4 linked regions of the Homo sapiens genome follow. The protein of the gene in region 3 purifies or fractionates together with the protein of the main gene of each other region. This does not show direct contact. Each region holds a gene or a part of one and is shown on either strand. Other genes may lie near its edges.

Region 1 (4,159 bases), on a different chromosome or scaffold from region 3:
ACTGTATTAAAAGTCTTGAAACCAGATACCACGTATCAGGTTAAAGTACAGGTTCAGTGTCTCAGCAAGGCACACAACACCAATGACTTTGTGACCCTGAGGACCCCAGAGGGATGTAAGTGTTTCAGTTAATTTTTATGGCATGGGTAAGACCTCAGGTCGGGGTTTGTGAGGGTCTTTCTGAGTATTCTCAGGAATGTGGGAACATATGTGTGCCTCACATGTACAGAAGTATGGTGGCTAAGCTTTATAGTCTTGCCAGAGTTGTCAAACATCTGTTCTTCTTACTGCATCAGAGACTGTTCTTGTACCTTAAGTTAATTTAAGATTCTCTCCACCATTGCCCTCTTGCATTTTTTGTCTAGTTTCTACCTCTACGTTCCTCCTCTAGATATTTCCTAGTACTTGGTACTTAGGAGGAGGTCATCGTCATTAAAATATGAGGCATATCAGCAATTTTGTGGCTAAGTTTTTTTCTTTTTGGAGACAAGGTCTCACTCTGACACCCACACTGGAGTGCAGTGGAGGCGCAATCACTGCTCACCACCTCAGTCTTCCCAGGCTCAGGTGGTCCTCCCGCCTCAGCCTCTCGCATAGCTGAGACTATAGGTGTGTGCCACCATGCTCAGCTAGCTTTTTGTATTTTTGTACAGAAAGGGTTTTGCCGTGTTACCTAGGCTGGTCTTGAGCTACTGAGCTCAAGCAATCCACCTACTTCAGCCTCCCAAAATGTTGGGATTACAGGTGTGAGCCACTGCACCTGGCTTTGTGGCTAAGTTTTTAAGAAATTTACCAAATTTATGTGTCTAAGAGAGTTCCTCGCCTCCTCCCTACTTCAAAGTAGTTGACATGAGCAACTGTCTGCTTGAATGTCATCTTTTTTCATTGCCTAAAGTATCCTGAATATGCTAGCGCTAAACTCATTAAGGAGCCTGCTTTGAAGATGATCAAATTCATTTGGATATAGAAATTCTGTGATGTTACAAAATTAGTCTTATTTTTTGGTAGTCATGCCCACAGTACAGTTTTTGTTGTACAAGAAGCAGAGGCAGCAGGTGCTGTCATTGACAATTAAGATCTCAGCATGGAAGTCTCAGGGTCAGTGGTGACTCAGCCTGCCCAAGTGATTCTATCCTGCAGCCCTTATGAGCCACAAATTTACCACACACTCAACTGAGCCATGATGTGATGTGTGGACGGCACACCTTGCTTTTTGGAAGAAGAGGAAAAGTGTCTTTTCAATGTGACGACCAAGCTAGCAGCCTTTCTAGTGGATAGTCTCAATGCCGGCTGTGGAGTCGTTCTTGTCCTTGTTCTAAGCCCAGGAAAATTCCTCTGGTTGGCTGCTATGCAGATGGGTTTTAACCTTGAGTTGACTCTTTTTCTAGTGCCAGATGCCCCTCGAAATCTCCAGCTGTCACTCCCCAGGGAAGCAGAAGGTGTGATTGTAGGCCACTGGGCTCCTCCCATCCACACCCATGGCCTCATCCGTGAGTACATTGTAAGTACCTTCCATGAGTTGGCTGTATGTGTGTTGGGGGTGCTAGGAGATTTCTGGGTATTCTGTATGACGAGGGGGTTGATTTGGTTTAGCTTTGTAGGTGATGACCCATCCGTCAGAACATTTTGCTCCTCACCATCTTTTCTCTCCTCCAGCCTCCTTGCAAGATATTAGGATGCCCTGGACCTTTGGTTCCCTTTACTCACATTTTTTTTCTTCTCCCTTTAGGTAGAATACAGCAGGAGTGGTTCCAAGATGTGGGCCTCCCAGAGGGCTGCTAGTAACTTTACAGAAATCAAGAACTTATTGGTCAACACTCTATACACCGTCAGAGTGAGTGTCGTCATCCATTCCAGCCATCCATGCAGTCTTAGAACTGAGCGAAATTGCTGCTGTTTTGTGAGAACTCTCTACTCACCTTTGTGAGATGCATATTAGTAATCTGCAAAATACCCAACTTCTTGCCCTGGGACGGGGGAGCTCAGAGTTTCTTTCAGTCTCTTAAATGGACACCACAAAGAGCTTGACATCAGAGTTTCTGTAGATAACCGGGCGTTTATGGGAATGCCGCTTTCCCTGCTTTTAACTCCGGTATTCTGCTAGCTTTCCAGCTCCTATACTTTTGCAGTCAGCTCTTTCCTGCTTATCTTTAGCTGCAGGATGATGCAGAGCTATGATAAGTAGTCTTTCTAAACTGATTTTATGAGGTTCTTATGAAATATATTTTTAGTATTTTTAGCAGAAAGAGATAGATTTTGTGAACAACATGTTTGCTGAGACCATTAAGTGTGCACATTCATGACTCTCACACTGATAATTTTGTCAGTACCCTTTTTGTATATGTGTGTATTTATGAACACACCCCCCCATACACCTGCCCTTTAGAAGAACCTTGATATTTGTGGATCAATAGAAATTTTCTGATCTCAGGACTGTCATAATGCCCTTTACCCAAGCTCCTTCCCTTGGCTTTTTTGCCCTCTTATTTCAGATGCTGGGGCCTCTGAATATTCTGGATCACTCTGTATAAAATTTTTCCAGCCTCACTGCCAAAATCTCACCCCTTTAGCTCATTCAGTATTCTTACTGTATGGTGTATGGTGTATTGCCTTTATTTCATATTAATTCACCCTCTGATTTGAAAAGGTGGCTGCGGTGACTAGTCGTGGAATAGGAAACTGGAGCGATTCTAAATCCATTACCACCATAAAAGGAAAAGGTAAATGATCCCAGCATTTGCAGATTTAGAGAAAATATTATACAAACCCTTTCAAATGACTTTCAGTATGACCGGAAAATGGAGAAACGTAGTTTAGAAAAACATCACACAACTTTCTTCTCCCCAACACACGCACATTTTTGGGTGTCTCTGTAGTGCTTTAGATAGAGTCTTTTTGGGGTGACTGAGTGTCTTTTTCCTCCTAGTATTGAGCATTTCTTCTAATGCAGACATACAAAGGGATTTCCAAAGGCCATCATGCGCAGCCCTTTGTGAGTAGTCAAAATATCTAAAATAGAAGGAGTCCTTCCTTCTCACCAAAGCTGAAGATGATTTTGTGCATGTTCACTTACGGGGTTTTAAAGAAAGCACCATGCTGACTCTTGTTATTCTCCCAGTGGCACTGGCAAACTGTGTGTAGGTGGTTTTTTATCTTGTACTAGAGCTGATATTAGTAATAACTGATGGCTTGCCAAGGGCAGGACACTCTAGAGTGTTCACTGCTTTGCGTACATCAGCTCATCTAATTGAACAGTCAGAACAACTACAAGAAAGGATAAGGAACTGGAATGAGGTTATGTCACTTGTCCCAGGCCACACAATCAGTAAGTGACAGAGCTGGCCCTGGAACCTGATCTGCCTGACTCCAAAGCCTGTGCTCTTAACCACTGTGCTCCACGCTTCTCTCTGGGCTGAGACACATGCGGCCTACTGGACCGCCCTGCTTGCCGGGGGTGGCGGGCTCAGCATCTTGCACGAGTGCCTCATGAGGGCAGAGATCTGGTCTGTTTTTCTCTACTCTATCACGGGCATCTAGTAGAGACTAAGGAAATAATTGATGATTGAGTGAATCGAAGCAGTTAAATGAAGGGTTCTGGCATACTTTGGGAGATGGACTACAACTCATTTTCCAGAGTGGTTTTCCTGACCTTAGCCTTGACACTGGGGACTTGCATTTCTGGACTTCCAGGTATTAAAACCAGATGGACACTGTGGCATGCAATAGGACTGGAAGATTTTACTTTAACCTAAGCCTGTGAGGAATAGGCTCTGGGTCATGGAGAGTCACTATCTAGTCCCCTCTAAAATCTGGAGCCTTTGAGATCAGGGCCCAAGGCGGCCAAACGTAGTGCCACCAGATGGTCTTTGGAGCTGAATGCTTGCAGGTATTAGAGAAAGCCTGCTGAATTCACACTCTCCTAGAATTTTTATTGTTGTATCTCTTCTCTCTACAAAGTCTGTTTCAAAACACTGACCACACATACCAAGAAGGGATGTTGGAAGAGCAACCAAATACATGTACCTTGAATTCCGAAGGCACAAGTCACAACTGCATTTGAAAATCTCAGTGGATGGTTGGTTCTCTTTAACTTCTTTTCTGTGATTTTGATGAATCTCAGCTGCTTGCATATATTTGGGCTAGGATTTGTACAGAAGGC
Region 2 (4,159 bases), on a different chromosome or scaffold from region 3:
TTATTAACATACAGACTTCCACAGAGCATTACTAGGGAGTAACAAGTCGTGGAAAATGGTTAGAGAAACATATTACAGATATTTATGGGGGAGATGATCGTACTTGCAAGAAGCATTTCAAGCCTATTGCATTTTCTCAAGTGATTTATTTATAAGTTAGCTGTGACTGAAAATACTAATCTACCCATGTTTCTTTTCAGAGCATTTATTTTTTACTGACTGGAGACTGGGTGCCATTATTCGAGTCAGGAAAGCAGATGGTGGAGAAATGACAGTTATCCGAAGTGGCATTGCTTACATACTGCATTTGAAATCGTATGATGTCAACATCCAGACTGGTGAGTGAGATTGCCCAGTTTTTTTTATTTTTTTGTATGGGTTTATTTATTTGTTACAGTGGCTCCTGTTCTCTTTAAGTACTTATTACTTAAAGGTCTAGCTCCTGGTAGTTTTATATTCTTGTCGTTCACATAATCTAAGAGTGTAAGACTTGAAATCTCTGTTCAATGCTGCTAGCCTTAAACATGTTGTCAGGAAAAACACATTTTGGGACTTTTCCATACCTAAATGGAATGTTGTATTTGGCGGGTTGATTTCCAAGAGGAAGCTACTTTTTAGTATTGGGTCTGAAAAATGTTTTGTCCTGTTTGTTTTCCTTCACAAATCAAACCCGTGACCTACCTAGTGAAAATGTACATGACTGACTCCCTCGGGGCTTTGCTTTTGCAGGTTCTAACGCCTGTAATCAACCCACGCATCCTAACGGTGACTGCAGCCACTTCTGCTTCCCGGTGCCAAATTTCCAGCGAGTGTGTGGGTGCCCTTATGGAATGAGGCTGGCTTCCAATCACTTGACATGCGAGGGGGACCCAACCAATGAACCACCCACAGAGCAGTGTGGCTTATTTTCCTTCCCCTGTAAAAATGGCAGATGTGTGCCCAATTACTATCTCTGTGATGGAGTCGATGATTGTCATGATAACAGTGATGAGCAACTATGTGGCACACTTAGTAAGTAGCTATGCACTGGCGATATTTCCTGGGATGAATAGAGTAGAGGTGGGCTTTAAAGAAAATAAATAAAAGCTTGGGCTATTTATATGGGAAAAATATCTTTTAGAATTTCAGATTCTTAACATGCACTTTGAAGGCTTTTAGGAAGCTAAGCAAGAAATTTCATTCATAATGTTATGGATGGTTTCTGGCCTTGATTTAGACTATCTTCAACAATTTTTTTCCTTGACATTGGCTGTTTGGACCAATGCAGTCATTATGTCTTGGCAAACTCCTCAAAAAGTCAAATCGAAATAAACTAGATCTGACCAGGCAAGGTGGCTCATGCCTGTAATCGGAGGCCGAGACAGGAGGATTGCTTAAGTCCAGAAGTTTGAGACCAGCCTGGGAAACATGACGAAATCCGGTCTCTACAAAAAATATAAAATGGCACATGTATACATATGTAACTAACCTGCACATTGTGCACATGTACCCTAAAACTTAAAGTATAATAATAATAAATAAATAAAAAAGAAATAGATGAGCTCAGAAAAAAATATGTATATAAAATTACAAATAGCTGGGACTATTACAAAATACAAAATTACAAAATACAAAAAAAACAAAATTACAAGTAGCTAGGACTACAGGCACATGCCACCACACCCAGCTAATTTGTATTTTGTATTTTCACAAAATTTGTAAAATACAAAAATTTGTACTTGGGAGGCTGAGGTGGGAGAGTTGTTTGAGCTGGGGAGGTTGAGGCTGCAGTTAGCCAAGACTGTGCCGTGTACTTCAGCCTGTGCAACAGAGTGAAGCCCTGCCTCAAAAAAATAAGCAAACAAACAACAACAACAACAAAAACCAAAAATAAAGTAGACCTAACATTTAGCAACCGAGAGAATAGTATCACAGAATAACTACTTGCAATCATAGCCTTTGGAAAATCTCATGTGTTATATTCCTTTTCTCCCATGTTAGAGTAAAATAAATTAACAATGAAATGGTGGTCTTAACCTTTATATTCTTCTTTTGACGGTAATCTAGTCTATATAGTTTGGGGCCTAATAAACACTATTGCAGAAGGCAAAAGTATTACATTCAAATTAAAAAAAAGATAGAGGACAGTTGAAATCTCAGAAATCTCTATCAAGGTGAAGTTAATACTAATAATAACCTTTCTTTTGGAGAGAAAGAGGAGTGACAGATTTGCAAGAGTAAAGTGCTCACTTGTACATTTTTCTGAAATTTTTTAAATTTTCATCTTTTTGTGTATTATCTTCTTGTTTCTAAGAGCACAGCATTTTACCTTAATATTTTATCTATTTGCACTTTTCATATGACATATTTTCAAGCTTTCTATAGTCTGAATTTGAAATTGTGGTTGGAGGAAGTAACAGCTTGAAAGTTAAGGATGAGCTTTAGAGTGAATCCAACCAGAGCGTGAATCATAGGCAGGTTCCTAAATCTCTCAAAGACTCAATTTCCTTATCTGTAAAATGCAGACAATTATATGTACTTTATAGTATTCTTGTGAGGATTTAAAGAGAACTTATATGATGTGTGTGGGTGCATAACTTAGAAAAATGCCTTTTCTATGATAAATACCAAATAAATGCCAGCCAATAATGATGTTAGTGATGATGACATCACTTGATGAACATTTCTCCTTATTATATACAATGCCTCCATTAAAAAAGGTGAACTGAGCCTTTATAAGGCAAGAACTCATTTAAAAGGCTGTAAAAACAAATGTCTTCATGACCAGTTTGTTACTATTGTAGATAATACCTGTTCATCTTCGGCGTTCACCTGTGGCCATGGGGAGTGCATTCCTGCACACTGGCGCTGTGACAAACGCAACGACTGTGTGGATGGCAGTGATGAGCACAACTGCCCCACCCACGCACCTGCTTCCTGCCTTGACACCCAATACACCTGTGATAATCACCAGTGTATCTCAAAGAACTGGGTCTGTGACACAGACAATGATTGTGGGGATGGATCTGATGAAAAGAACTGCAGTAAGTTTTGAGCTGGTTTCCCTTGGTTGGTCAGCCTCGTAAATAGACTTCAACAACCAAATGGCCTTGCATTCTTTCCTCTAAGGCTCATGCAATTTTCATTGTCTCTTTAGTACTTCTATTCCACTTGTCAATCTCTGTGTCAATAGGTTACAAGAACAAAGGCACGTGCCTGCACATGGGATTCTTAGAGTCCACCTACAAATATTGAGTTCTATGGAAGCAAAGCAAGGACTGCCTCTGATGCCAAACATTTCAATTCAGATAGGAATTGAAAAAGTGAAAATCCCTCAGCTATCTATTTATATATTTAAAACAATACTAAAAGTCATATAGATATATCCAGACCTTTGGCTATTGATGTTTCTTTTTCATTTGGTACAAGCAAAAAGACATCAAAATAAAGAGGCACAGAAAATTTAAATTTCCTTTGATCTTATCCACCTGTTTTCCATCTTGCCAGTTCTGCTTTCCTTTAGCTTGTTGTTTTATTTCATGTCTTCAATAATAGTTTAAGATGGAGCAAAGTTCCCTGGGCTAAGTTCTAGTCCTGGTTGCCTGACTAGGCAAGTCACTATCATTTGGAATAGATGAGCTTTAAGATCCCTTCTAGCTTTCATACCCTATAAGTGTGTATTTAATATAATTTCATGTTGTGGGTGGGGCCAGCCACTGCATCCGACTCCAAGGCTATGGTCTTAACAGTAAGGTAGGACCCTGGTTTTTAGAATTGTTCTGTTCAGACTTTTAAATCCAGTTTTGGGGGTCTGTCTACACACTGTTGCTACTAGGCATGTGGGTCATGCTGGTTTTGTTGCCTGATTGGGCTCCATTGCTTGGCTTTGGTCTAGAGTCATGGACTTCATAGTATTCATGAAATGTAGTCCAAGTCCAAGCACATGATGCTCACTTTCTGAATGTGGTCTATTTTCCAAGGTGTAATCACAGTTTCTGACTCTGCCCTGTAATCTTTTTATTCTCAATTCTAAAACCTATCCTAGTTTTGAGTTCTTTTGCTTAGCTGACTTTGATAGTGTGGCTGATTCAAAAGAATTTTGAACCCATGTACAATTGAGATAACTTCTGTAGCTATTTAGCCATTTTTAGTTTGGCTCTGGTACTTGTTGCACAGGAAA
Region 3 (3,396 bases):
CAGACCTACTGAGTTAATCTTTTATTGCACAGTGGGTTTAATAAAGGAAAAGGAAACAGAGTTTTAAGAGGAAGTTGGTCAAGTGGATGAAACCCTGAGAAAGAACAAGCAGAATAAAAATGGCAAAGAGTCTATTCAGTTTGACCCATCAGAAGGTGGCTAGTGACCTTTGCAAGAGTTCTTTCTTTGGAGGGGAAGGGTCGAAGGTCACACTTCAGAAAGATGAAAAGAGAAGGGATCAGAGCCTTAAGGCAGCCACTGTGGACGTTATAAAGAGTTTGGTCAAGGTAGGCCAGACGAGGTGACTCACGCCTGTAATCCCAACACTTTGGGAGGCCGAGACAGGCAGATCACCTGAGGTTGGGAGTTCAAGACCAGCCTGACCAACATGGAGAAACCCCATCTCTACTAAAAATACAAAATTAGCCAGGTGTGCAAGCCTGTAATCCCAGCTACTCAGAAGGCCGAGTCAGGAGAATTGCTTTAACCCGGGAGGCGGAGGTTGCAGTGAGCCGAGATCGTGCCATTGCACTCAAGCCTGGGCAACAAGAGTGAAACTCTATCTCAAAAAAAACCCCGAAAAAACAAACAAATGAAAAGTTTGGTCAAGGTGGGAAGGAAAAAGGGTGAAAGCTAGAAAAAGGTACATTAAGTGGTGATAATAGGAAGAGCAATTAGTAGATCCATGTATTGGGATTCCATTTATACTTTGCTTGTGAAAGATGACTAATGCAAATTTAACATCTTTTCATTTACATGTCATAGTTTAATTAAAGCAGAACATCTTGTTTAAAATATGTCATGAGACATGACTATAAATAAAAGTATATGTTGGGTACCAGTTAATGAATTTCCTAACCACTCTTCCCCTCTGAGGTAAAAGCAGCCAGTGCTTGTTTAGGAATGACACATGCATTAATTTGAGTTTATTCTTATAGCAGTACATTTAAATCAATACAAATCCAATCCACGTATTTTCTTGTTGTGTTTGCAGCATGGTTTGGGGACTGTGGCACTGAGCCATGCTATATATGGATGATATCCCCTGCTGGAGAATTGAAACATGCCTCTGCACAGCATTCATAATCACTTTCATGTTGACTGAATTCATGTGATGGAGAATATTTTTAATATAACATGGTAGCTTGCAGGGAGGGTATACTAGCAAAACAGTGATTTTTTTTTTAAATGCACATTTCTGTAGACATGCCCCCAAAGAGCCTGGCCAGCAATCACACTGGAACACAGCAGTGCTTTCATAAGAGGCATTCTCAGACCCAGGCATCTGTTCCTTGAATTCTTCAGTTCTAGGGGAAATCTTGATGGGGGGATATTGAAGGGTAAGGAAGCTGACTAATCCAGTCTAAAGAATATATTCCAGTTTAGCAATGTCATATTGGCTGTGGACATTTGTAACATATGTGACTCTTGCTGCATAAACTTGGGCATACAATGTAAGTCACATTGCTTTCTCGAAATCAAACTATTTCTGAATCCAAAGCCCCATCCCATTAGGCTGGGGGGGAAATTTAATCTTGGCTATTTCCTCATTCAGGGTTGGGATAGGGGCCCCCTCCCTAGGGTAGCCTGTGCTTTTGAAAGGCTAAAAATGGTCCAGACATTAAGAAGGGGGCAACACATCTTTACTTCATCATGGGGGCCATGGATACCCATATCTTCTGCACCTACGTGGCCCTTGAAGTCACTCATCTCTTCAACTTCCATGCCAGGCCCAGACACAGAAACCTTTACTGGGGTTGGAATCTTGTTGCTGAGAATCTAGCCTCAATAGGAACATCAGGCAACCATTTTCTGCCCAGGGCTCTGCCAGGGAGATGCAGTGGTACAGCATCCTAGTCCTGGAGAATCTCATGGCTCCCCTCACCACTTCTCCTTTTAACCTTCTACCTTCAGCCACAGTCTCAGAAAGTTAAGCTTGTGGGTAACAAACGTCAGGAAAGGGACCATCTTCCAGAAAAGTCTGCTTTTGATTGTTATATCCCAAATCTCCTTGATAAAAAAGAACATTAAAATCCTGCCTAATTTTGGGGGGGATAGAGGAGGTAAAAATATAGTGAAAAACACAAAATTAGTATGTCAATTAATTATCCGGACATTTATTTCTAGTTATCCAGTGGTTATCAGTCAGGGGTCTTAGTGTTGGAAAAGCCACCATATGCCAAGATGTAGACATAGCCACCCTCATTATCCCACCCATTGCAGCTGCTGTGAGGGGTCTGCTGTTTGGCTCACCCCTACTTTTTAAAAAAAGTTCCTTTGGGTGCAAAAGGAACATCTTTCTGAAAGCAGTTCCCTCCTGAGACTAGAGGAAAAAGAAACTTCTATACCCAGTTGTGCTATCACTGGCTGCTTAGTAATAACTTGTTTCCAATAGTTCTCAAGAAAATGCACTCAGATTGAGAGCAAAAGAGAGCAGCCCAGGTACTGAGCAGTCATAGACCCTTGTCATCTCCATTTGTTCCCTGAGGTTTCTCTTCTTTGGAGAGCCAGAGAAAACTGGATATGGTGATGACAGCAAGCCTAAAGTTGCTTCATTTCTGAAGACTATTCTGTGATTCTTTATTAAGCAAAAAAGAGATGGTGCTGGGGATAGTGAATAATTGCATGATGGCATTGTTGTGAGCATGATTCTTAAAGGGTCTTTCTTTAAAATGCCAATTTATACAAGTTTGAATTTATATAAGTTTGAGCTTAAAAAGTTTAGAAATGACAAAAGGAAATTACTTTTTTGAAAATAAGAAAAGATTCATAATCATACTACAGTAACATGAGTGCTTTTATATTTCACATTTTACTTTGCACATGAATGTATATTTTTATTTATCTGTAACTGCAGTATGCGTAGGCTATTGTTGAATTTCATTTTGATAGGCTATATGTGCATGTTATTTTAAAGAATACCATGTTCCAAATGAAATATTCTTTTCCCTCTATGTTTGTTCCAGGGTAACTTTTGTCATCTTTGAATCAGGATCATTTTGTTGTCCTCTAAATCTGCTTATTTCGGATATTGAAGATTGTAGAAACCCTCTAGGCCTAGTCTGCTCTTTATGGGAGGCATGGGAGACATACTTCTCTTTAGAGTGAATGTTACTGGATAGGTGCTCCATAAATTGTAGCTATTATTATTTTCATAATTATTGAATTTAACAAATATTTCTAGTGTTTTATCTGATTATAAAATTAACATGAACTATTTTTTTTTTTAAATTACAATATTGAAGAAACATTCATTCAGGCCGGGCGCAGTGGCTCATGCCTGTAATTCCAGCACTTTGGGAGGCCTAGGTGGGTGGATCACTTGGGGCCAGGAATTCGAGACTAGCTTGGCCAACATGGTGAAACCCTGTACTAAAAATTTAAAAAATTTAAAAA
Region 4 (4,159 bases), on a different chromosome or scaffold from region 3:
AACCAGCTGGGACCTTGGTACTCATTGCCTGCAAGCTGCCCCCTCTCTGCCCCCGAAAAGGGACCCCTTTCATAGCAACCTGGACGGGTGTGTAATTAGCCTGTAATGGCATCAGCGGGTTTGCCGTGTTATGAGTCTGCTCATTCTGCTGTTCTTCAGACTGAGCTTGGGAACTGGGCCTCGAGCCAGCCTGCTTGTGAGCAAGTTCTAGTTCCACCATTCTCAAGCCAGCTGACTTTGGTCAACCTACTTGACCACAGTGTCTCAGTCGCCTCACCCATAAAACCAGCTCACCTGCTCAGTGCTCAATAAGTGTTGTAATTGGCAGTGTTACTGTTTTCTATGGTTGTAGTTCAAGATGTTTATTCTAGCCTCTGTAATGTCTTTGTTTTTTTTTTTTTGAGACGGAGTCTCACTCTGTCGCCCAGGCTGGAATGCAGTGGCACAATACCGGCTCACTGCAACCTCCACCTCCCAGTTTTAAGCGATTCTCCTGCCTCAGCCTCCCGATTAGCTGGGATTACAGGCACCTGCCCCCATGTCTGGCTAATTTCTGTATTTTTAGTAGAGACGGGGGTTTCACCATGTTAGCTGAGTGTGGTGAAGCGCGCCTGTAGTTCCAGCTACTCGGGAGGCTGAGGCAGGAGAATCGCTTGAACCTGGGCGACAGGTTGCAGTGAGCCGAGATCGCACCACTGCACTCCAGCCTGGCAACAGCGAGACACCGTCTCAAAAAAAAAAAAAAAAAGAGAAAATATCAGAGTACATTGTAACTGATGAGAAAAAGTATTGCATTGTTTCTTGGAACTTTGATACCAATTATGTGTATGCTAGGTCATGATGCAAAATGTATTTTACTGGATCAGCCAATAAAAGTTGAGAAGCACTTGTTCTGAGGTTTATTGACAAACTAGAGGGATCCCAAAGGTGACAATCAGGATGGGAATGAGACTGAGACCATAGCAAATGGAGAGCTGGTGGAAAGAATGGAGAAGGGTTTGGCAGGAACTCCGAGGACCTGATCGCTGTTATCAGTGATCTGCAGGTTGTCTCTGGGCAGAAGGAGTAGATGTGTTCTGAATGGCCCCAGGGATGGTAACTTTGGGGAGGCAGGTTTTCAGTTCACTAGAGGAAGAGAGTTACTGCTGTCAGAACTGTCCAGAGGAGATGAGCTGGGAAGCATCACTGATGTGTGTAACAGAAAGTGGCTGAGCGCTCTCAGAGACACTGGAGAATGGATTCAGGCTGTACAGAGGCACCTTTTTTTTTTTAAGATGGAGTCTTGCTCTGTTGCCCAGGCTGCAGTGCAGTGGTGATTTCAGCTCACTGCAACCTTTGCCTCCCAGGTTCAAGGAATTCTCCTGCCTCAGCCTCCTGAGTAGCTGGGACTACAGGTGCCCCTCACTACGCCAGGCTAATTTTTTTGTTTTTAGTAGAGATGGGGTTTCATCATGTTACCCAGGCTGGTCTTGAGCTCCTGGGCTCAAGCAATCCTACTGCCTTGGGCTCCCGAAGTGCTGGGATTACAGGCGTAAGCCAACGCATCTGGCACAAAGGCACATATTTTAAGAGATTTGTAGGTCCCACACATAAGAGAGCTTATGCAGATCTGGGGTGATCAGCGCCCTCCACCCTTAATAGTCTCCAGTGGCCCCATGGTGCCCTTACTGTAATATCTGAGCTCTTCATCCTGGGTCTGCCAGGCTCTTTTTATTCTGACCTCTAGCCCTGTCTTCATCACCTGCCCTGTTCCTTTCCAGCCACACCAGGCAGGTCATAGTTCTCACTATCTGCCATACAGTCTTTATGTATGCTGACAGTCTGTCTCCTCTACCTGAGATTGCCTCTCCCTCGCCATATACTTTCAAACTCCTAGTTACCCATTAAAGCACAGTTTAAGGGTTGTTTTTTTCTGGGCCATTTCCCCTAACGCCCCTCCCTGTCTCGGACTTCTCATCCCTGGAGTGTCTGTTGGCCCATGGTATAGTGGTTAATTGTGGCATCTGGAATCAGTCCAGGATTCAAATTCAAGCTCCATCGTGTACTAACCATATGCCTTAAAAAAAATAACCTCTCTGTTCGTCACCAGCAAAAAGGTAGTACCTACCTTTAGAGTTGTTGTGGAAAATATAAGTTGATCCATGTGAAGGGCTTAGAACTCTGCCTGGTGCTCACTAACATTGGCTGTTGTAAATAGTTTATACTCTTAGTTCTCGTATCGTAATTGTCACACCTATTACATTGCTGCTGTTGGTTTACAGATCTGTCTTCTAGGCTGTGAGGTTTTTGAAGGGAAAGGACTGTGTGCCCTATTCATCTTTGTATCCACAGAGCCAAACACAGGATCAGGTATTTATATAATAATTATATATTATATAAATATATATATATAAATATATATAAATATATATATATTTTTTCTTTTTGAGACAGGGTCTTCATCTACCACCCAGGCTAGAGTGCAGTAGTGTGATCACAGCTCACTGCAGCCTTGACCTCCTAGGTTCAAGCGGTCCTCCCACCTCAGCCTCCTGGGTAGCAAACCTGAACATTTCTTTTCTTAAGACAGTCAGTTTTTGAGTGTTAGGAAATTACATAATTATTTGGTGAAGCTGTTCACAAAGCTGTGGTAATTTTTTTCTTAGCCAAAATTATTTGTTTTTGTTTTATTCGAAAATCCCTTTTATCATATTCATTAACTATTGATGAATCAATAGAATCTATTAAAAATAGCAAAAATGGCCTGGCACAGTGGCTTATGCCGATAAATCCAGCAGTCTGGGAGGCCAAGGCAGGAGGATTGCTTGACCCCAGGAGTTTGAGACCAGTCTGGGTAACATAGTGAGACTTTGTTTCTACAAAAAAATAAAAAACTAGCTGAGCATGTCCCAGCCACTCAGGAGGCTGAGGTGGGAGGACCGCTTGAACCTAGGAGGTCAAGGCTGCAGTGAGCTGTGATCACGCTACTGCACTCTAGCCTGGGTGGTAGATGAAGACCCTGTCTCAAAAAGAAAAAAAAAAAAGATAGCAAAAATGTCAGTATTTTTATAGCCTTGGTTATATAGAATTTTTATTAGCAATACACAGCAGGAGTTGTGTGGGAAGTTGGAGGTGCAGGGAGTGCTTGATTTGTGGAAGTTTTGGTGGAAGTGGGACTTGAGTGCTACCTTGAGATTCAGAGGGAGTGAGTCTCACTTCTAGAGTTGATAGGAGTTCACCTGGACAAAAGGAGCGGAAAGCAGCTTTTATAGATGGAGGAAAGTAATGGAGCTAAGAGGTTTTAAGCATTTGGTCTTCAGATGGTAAGGAACCCGAGGGGTTATCTGGTCAAAGGAAGGGGAAGGGAGTTGTGGTGAAGAACATGAACCCTGAAGCCTTGGATGCAAACACTAGCTGTGTGACCTCAGGCAAGGTACCTGACCTCTCTGTACAACTATAAGACGGGGAGGTTAATAGTACTGTTACTGTTATGAGGAATAAATGACATTATAGTATATAAAATGCTCTGCTCGGTGCCTGGCATTTAACGAGTGCCCAAATATTGATTCATAGTTTCCAAGTCTGTGTGTCGTTCCCAACTGAATGAATGATAGCTGTGCTAATCTCCTCAGACCTTGAGTCTTACAAATATCATTATTTTCTCAGTATGCTATAATGTGAACAATTTGGGAAGTAGCTATTATCTGGTAGTGTAGCGTTCCCACCGCAGGGCCTCAGGGAAGATGAGGCTCTGCTCTGTGCCACCTCCTTCTTCCCCCACCTGCTCCACTTTTTTTTTTGAGATGGAGTCTCGCTCTGTCGCCCAGGCTGGACTGCAGTGGCGTGATCTCAGCTCACTGCAAGCTCCACCTCCCAGGTTCATGCCATTCTCCTGCCTCAGTCTCCCGAGTAGCTGGGACTACAGGCGCCCGCCACCACACCCGGCTAATTTTTTGTATTTTTAGTAGAGACGGGGTTTCATCGTGTTAGCCAGGATGGTCTTGATCTCCTGACTTCGTGATCCACCCGCCTCGGCCTCCCAAAGTGCTGGGATTACAGGCGCCCGCCACCACACCCGGCTAATTTTTTGTATTTTTAGTAGAGATGGGGTTTCACCGTGTTAGCCAGGATGGTCTCGATCTCCCGACTTTGTGATCCACCCACTTTGGCCTCCCAAAGT

What was found.
Region 1: the proteins of EGFL6 (region 3) and SORL1 purify together in Homo sapiens (affinity purification with mass spectrometry; 2 studies listed by BioGRID and IntAct, with this or other methods). This does not show direct contact.
Region 2: the proteins of EGFL6 (region 3) and LRP2 purify together in Homo sapiens (affinity purification with mass spectrometry; one large-scale study listed by BioGRID and IntAct). This does not show direct contact.
Region 4: the proteins of EGFL6 (region 3) and ZZEF1 purify together in Homo sapiens (affinity purification with mass spectrometry; 2 studies listed by BioGRID and IntAct, with this or other methods). This does not show direct contact.

Annotation. Positions count from the first base shown.
Region 1 is NC_000011.10:121,605,457-121,609,615, forward strand, and holds part of SORL1 (sortilin-related receptor preproprotein), read left to right. Parts: coding exon 1-115; intron 116-1,388; coding exon 1,389-1,501; intron 1,502-1,729; coding exon 1,730-1,834; intron 1,835-2,647; coding exon 2,648-2,720; intron 2,721-4,159. UniProt on the Homo sapiens protein: Sorting receptor that directs several proteins to their correct location within the cell. Along with AP-1 complex, involved Golgi apparatus - endosome sorting.
Region 2 is NC_000002.12:169,243,557-169,247,715, reverse strand, and holds part of LRP2 (low-density lipoprotein receptor-related protein 2 precursor), read left to right. Parts: intron 1-200; coding exon 201-338; intron 339-729; coding exon 730-1,011; intron 1,012-2,783; coding exon 2,784-3,023; intron 3,024-4,159. UniProt on the Homo sapiens protein: Multiligand endocytic receptor. Acts together with CUBN to mediate endocytosis of high-density lipoproteins. Mediates receptor-mediated uptake of polybasic drugs such as aprotinin, aminoglycosides and polymyxin B.
Region 3 is NC_000023.11:13,628,242-13,631,637, forward strand, and holds part of EGFL6 (epidermal growth factor-like protein 6 isoform 1 precursor), read left to right. Parts: intron 1-3,396.
Region 4 is NC_000017.11:4,132,586-4,136,744, reverse strand, and holds part of ZZEF1 (zinc finger ZZ-type and EF-hand domain-containing protein 1), read left to right. Parts: intron 1-4,159. UniProt on the Homo sapiens protein: Histone H3 reader which may act as a transcriptional coactivator for KLF6 and KLF9 transcription factors.